Regions from separate parts of the Homo sapiens genome. Here region 2 is linked to region 1. Evidence: fine-mapped expression QTL. A gene starts in region 1. The other region holds a variant in brackets. All regions are shown on one strand. Distances are from middle to middle. Region 1 holds the start of ZNF484 (zinc finger protein 484). Region 2 has its middle 34 kb from the start of FGD3.

Region 1 (2,911 bases):
AATTGATTTTTGAATACCAAAACAGCTTTTTATTCCTGGAATAAATATCACTTGTTCATGGTTTGTAGTTATTTTTATATATTGTTGAATTATTTTTGCTATTATTTGGTTGAGAATTTTTCCATCTATATTCATGAAGAATACTGATTTCTTCTTCTTCTGTCTTTAGCTCTGATATCAGAGTAACACTGGCCTCATGAGTTGGAATATCTTTCTATTGTCTTCTTTCTATTCTTTTTTTATTCTGGAAGAGACTGGATATAATTCGTGTTAACCTTTAAATGTTTGTTAGAATTCTCTGATCTAGCTATCCAGGCCTTAAGATTTCTTTTTCAGATATTTCAAATTATGACTTCAGTTCTAGGGCTATTCAACATAACTATTTCATGTAAGAGAGAATTTGTGCTTTTTCAAGAATTAGTGCATTTCATCTATGTTGTGAAATTTATGTTTGTAGAGTTGTTTGTAGTATTCTCTTTATTCTTTTGATTTCGTCATGGTCTACAGTGGTATCTCCTGTTTCATTCTGGATATTGATATTTTGTGTCTCCTCTACAGATTTGTCAATTTTATTAACATTTACAGAACCAGCTTTTGTTTAATCGGTTTTTCTCTATTTTTCTTTTTACATTTTATTGAGTCATCTTCTTATCCTTATTATTTCCTTTCTTTCACTTGCCTTCGGTTTATTTTGCTCTTCTTTTTCTAGTATGTGAGGGAGCTTGGTTATTGCTTTGAAATTTTTTTCTTTTCTAATGTAAGCCCTTAGTGGTATATACATTTTTCTCTCACCACTGATTTAGCCACATCCCACAAATTTTGATATGTTGTGTTTCACTGTCATTCATTTCAATGTATTTTAAAAATTCATTCACTTTCACTTTCATTCATTTCAATGTATTTTAAAAATTTGAGACTTTCTCTCTGAACAATGGATTATTTAGCATGTGTTTTCACGTGTTTGGAGATTTTCCTTTTATCTTCCTGTTATTGATTTCTAGTTTAATTCTATTGTGTTCAGAGAACAAACTGTATGATTTCAGTTGTTTCAAATTTGCTGAGATTTGTTTTATGACCCAGGTTACTTCATATCTTGCTAAATGTCCCATCGACACGAATAAAATGTGTATTCGGCTGCGTTTGCGGTGTTACATAAATGCTGATTAGTTCCTGTTGATTAACAGTGTTGTTGTGTCCACAGAAGCATTGGAGAAAGACTGTAACCTGAGGTGATAGGCTTTGATTGTGTCCTGGCTTAGTATGATGGGACACACCTCTGCTTGCTTCCTTTCCTTTGGACAACCCTCAGCCTCTCAGTCTCTACATGACCTCAACATGGCCGCCCACAGGCCAGAGTGTCTACATGGGCGCCGCCATACTGGCGCCCAGCCTAAGCCGCTGAAACGGGAGCGTGTTTGGCAAAGCGCCATGTTGATTACTGGCAACCTTCAGGCCATGAAGACTGCTGAGCATGCGCAAACCCAGGCAGCGCTGTAAGAAGTACCTCTAGGCCTGGGAGGCATTGAGAAAAAGGAAGTGGGTCCTGTTCTGGTTCTTGCGACTATAGTCACCTCCCGAGGCAAATGACCACTGTCCTGAGAGGACGTGGGTGAGGGGCAGGTGAGTAGAGGGATGGCAGCATCTGTGGACTGAGCAAGAAGAATCTCTGATGTCTGTCCTGAGCCTTCCGGTCAGTGATGGGGTCGGTCAGTGGATGGAATAGTGGAAGTCGGAGCGATCTCTGATGGTGGATCTGAGGGAGGAGTGAGGGGGCACTGAGGGGTCTCTGGTGGTGGATCTGCAGGCGGAGTGAGGACGGACTGGGGGTCTCTGTCTGGTGGTGGATCTGAGGGCGGAGTGAGGGCGGACTGTGGGGTTGTGGGGGAGGATGACTATGGGAACTAAGGAGGGATCTGAGGAGTGTGAATGATGCACATCTTAATTAGTTTCCTCTCTTTTATACGTACCGATCTGTTTATATTTTCGTTTCTGTTTCATTATAATGATATATTTTGCTAAAGATTTAAAGAATATATTACATAGAATTGCATGTTTCCATTTCCATTTTGTTCTCTTTCATATCCAGACTAGTAGCTCCTTTATCATTACGGTTATTATATTTATATATCATTCATTCTTTCTCTATTTAAAAAGAATCAAGCGTCTGAAAGGTTTATCTGTTTCATTGGACATTTTGAAATGTCCAATAAAATACTCCCTACTCTTTTAATATTAATTTTTTTCTCTTTTTCTTTTTAGGTACTTTCTCTTTTTCCCACTTTTTGATGTAATTTGTTGTTCTTTCCCTTATTTTCTTAAGTTTTATGCGGGATACATTTAGGGTTGTAAAGTTTCTTTAAGTACATCTTTATGAAATGCATAAGTTCATTTTGATGTTTCCCTTTGAATCTTAGTTATTTAGGAGAGTTTATTCATTCCCAAATTATTAAAGTATGTTTTAGCTGTTTTTTATTTTATTGTATTGTCAGAAAATGCAGACTATCAAGTCTCAACTTTTAACAATTTATCAAGATTTTCCTTGAAGCCAAGTTACTCAATGAACTTTGTTCAACAGATATAAAAGAAAAATTATATTTTGTTGTATGGACCAAAATTCTCTTTAATTAAGTCTTGCTTGTTGGTATTTTTCAAATCTTTATCTTTCCTAATTTTGATCTACTTGTTTCATATTCTGGAGGAGATACAATAAAAATCACTTTTAATAGTTCATTTTGCAGTTATATGTGCTTTTTTGCTAATTTTATTTGTGCATCTGAGGGATGGGCATACATACACTTAATGGTTAGTGCATTTTTTATCCTTTTTCATGTATTAAGTGGTATTATTATAGGATCCCTTTTTTCAACCAAAAAGAAAAAAGAAAAACACTTTTTAACATCGAATTCCAAGA
Region 2 (2,911 bases), 36 kb before region 1:
TTCTGCAGAATCCCTCCTTGTTGACTGGCAGCAAGCCAGGCCCACAGTGGGTCCCGCAGCAGTACCGGTGAGGCTAGCCCAACTCATTTCACTGTTGGGCCTCCCTGGGGCTCTGATGTCCATACCTCCAGCTCCTTCTCCAGCTGGGCCTGCAGTTCCTCCATCCCTGGAGGGAACACGAGGTGGGTAGGAAGGTGAATGGAGAGCCTCAGCCCCATGGGGTTGGCACCATTAAGAAACTGGTACCCAAATAAGGCATCCTCCTTTCAGAAGTCCCACACATTCTCTGGGGAAGGCAGTTGTTGAGCAAGTTGTGGGATCTGAGTTCTTGGTCCTTCCAACCCCCACCAACCATGCCCACTTGACTCTAGCCCACCAGAGGGACCCAAGTCTCTGGTCTCCCCACCCTGGTTCTTTCAATTCCCCTGGATTGGGTGGGAGCTGGAGTAAGAGTCCTGGGAGGAGTATTGGGGTAGGGGGTCTGATCAGCTAGCTTGCCCTGGCCACACTAGAAAATCCGGTTGAAGTCATCCAGATTGTTCCAACAAGTCAGAACATTTAGAGTCTTTGATAGCGAGGTCGGCCAGGCTTCAAGGAAGGTTGGGGCAAAGGGTTTGAGCATATTTTGAGACTCCAACATTACAACCACAGGCACCTATCTTGGGCTGATCCAGCACAGTGCAGCCTATAAGCCCCTTGGCTTCCACTAGACCAGAGCACCCCCCTCCCACCCAGCCTCCCCTTGCTGTCACCCATTGGCCAGCAAAGCCTCAAAGTCAACTCTCTTGTCTTCCAGAAATCGCTCATGCACAGGAGATCACATAGTTTGGCCCCAGCCACATTCAGAATTAACCCATCCTTCCAGTTTCCCCACCAGTGGGGAAGAATGAAATCAGACACGGGTGCTGGAAGCAGCAGTTCACATGGGGTCTGGGGAGTAGGGGGTCACCGGTACAGCTTCCTTCTCTCTTCCAGCTCCTCTTCCCTGTGTTTCTTTCTTTATTTTCTTTTCTTTTCTTTTTTTTTTTTTGAGATGGAGTCTTGCTCAGTCGCCCAGGCTAGGGTGCAGTGGCACGATCTCGGCTCACTGCAAGCTCTGCCTCCTGGGTTCACACCATTCTCCTGCCTCAGCCTCCCAAGTAGCTGGGACTACAGGTGCCCGCCACCGCACCCGGCTAATTTTTTTGTATTTTTAGTAGAGACGGGGTTTCACTGTGTTAGCCAAGATGGTCTCGATCTCCTGACCTTTTGATCCGCTCGTCTGGGCCTCCCAAAGTGCTGGGATTACAGTTGTGAGCCACCGCGCCCGGCCTTCCCTGTGTTTCTTGAACAGGCCTTGAGAGTCCTCGGCCACAGTGCAGCCTAGAGTAGAGTGCAGTAGAGAGGAGGGATTGGGCAATGGCTTTTTCTGAGAGCCTCTTCTCGTCCCTGCCAAGAGAGCTTCATCACCCTGTCCTTCTGTGTGGCCCCTGCCCCTTCGGCACCACGCCCCACCCCCAGCCTCCACGCCACTCTGTGCCAGCTCCCGCAACCGCTTCTTCAACAACCTCCAAAGACCCCTGCGCTCCAGGTTCCAGCACCCCCATCCTCCACATCCGCATGCACCCCAGCTTCTCTTGCACTCCAGACGCCTCTTCACACTTTCACGCTTTCAGCCCCGCTCTCACCAGTGCCTTCCGGTAC[G/T]CTCAGGACGCCGTTGCCCTCCACCCAGAGGTAACAAGGGAACTTCACTTCCTCACCGGATCCGGGGCCCTGCACGGAGATCCAGTTGCAGAACCAGGAGGCGTCCAGAAGGAGATGCCGTTTGCGCAGTTTCCCAAACAGCAGCGGCCCCAGGTGCTCCGGTACTTGAACCTTGAATTCTACTTCCCGCGGGAGACAGAGGAGGCTCAGCCACCGTGGGGCCACAGCTGCACCTAGTTGTTGGAGCTGGCACAGGGTGAGGCCCCGGTGGACACCCGGACGCAGTAGAGACCAATCTTGCTCAAAGACGTTTCGCTCCTTCTGGTGGGGAAGAAGGGTGGACGAGCTAACTCGCTGAGCCTGAGACCCTGCCCTCTCAGAATTCGCTTGGGGTCAGAAAGTGGGTGGCAGGTCTCCAACCAACTCCGCCTGGCTACCCGCTGGGGCTTCCAGGAGCTACCCGCTGGAGCTCCAAGGAGCAGAACTCAGCCCCATGCCAAAAAGGAGTCCCGGCGGAAGCAGGGAGTGGAAACCATTACTTTGATTGGTGGGAGAAGCAGAAAAGGATTTGGACAGAAAATACGCAGGAAGAAGGAATCAACGCCTCGTACAGGAGGCAGGTGAGGTGGGGGCAGGAGTTATGCACCAGTGTAAGATGGAGTTTCAGGCAAGCCTGGATGGCTAGGAAATCCCCCTCCATCTAAACGTGCGCGTGTGCGCGCGCGTCTCACAAGTTGGGCTACAGGAGGGGGTGAAGTGGGAGAGGAGACCCAGTCTTCAGTGACATTTGAGGAAGACACATTAAGGCCACTGAATTCATTGGACCAACTTTGCTTACTTGCCTTCCCTGTGCCAGGCTCTGGGATTCATTCCTTTTGAATGTAAACGCCTCTGCCTCCCTATTGCCTGCGGAATAAAAATCCAAATTTGGGGGCATTCAATGCCCTTGCTAACCCGACCAGACCTCCTTGCCCCTCATCCCACTGCACCAGGGCATCTTCTGCTGCTTCACTTTGGGCTGGAGCCATGTGTTCCCTGGAACCCACGCGTCTTTCCCTCAAAGAACCTGCTCCTGGGTAAGCCTATTCATCCTTCTAAACCCTGATTCCAGTTTTTCAGCTAAGTCTTTCCTGGTTATTCCACCCCTGTCACCTCACCAGAGCTGGTCAGCTTTCCTTTCTACCACTTTTCTCTTTGTGCACACTTCTATTGTTGCACACTTAATCCT

What was found. PIP is the estimated chance that this variant, and not a neighbour inherited with it, causes the effect. A credible set is the group of variants that fine-mapping cannot tell apart.
Region 2: its variant is the best candidate, but not a certain one, in a credible set for the expression of ZNF484 in blood mononuclear cells (TOPMed, PIP 0.79).

Annotation. Positions count from the first base shown.
Region 1 is chr9:92,876,599-92,879,509 of GRCh38, reverse strand. ZNF484 (zinc finger protein 484) reads left to right here and starts at 1,472. Exons shown (of 5, transcript NM_031486.4): 1 at 1,472-1,620. RefSeq lists enhancers at 1,229-1,668, 1,182-1,717.
Region 2 is chr9:92,912,227-92,915,137 of GRCh38, reverse strand. It overlaps the pseudogene ALOX15P2. Among named protein-coding and RNA genes, the nearest start is that of FGD3, 34 kb to the left of the region's middle. RefSeq lists an enhancer at 2,198-2,699. The variant G/T (reference allele first, on the strand shown) is at 1,684.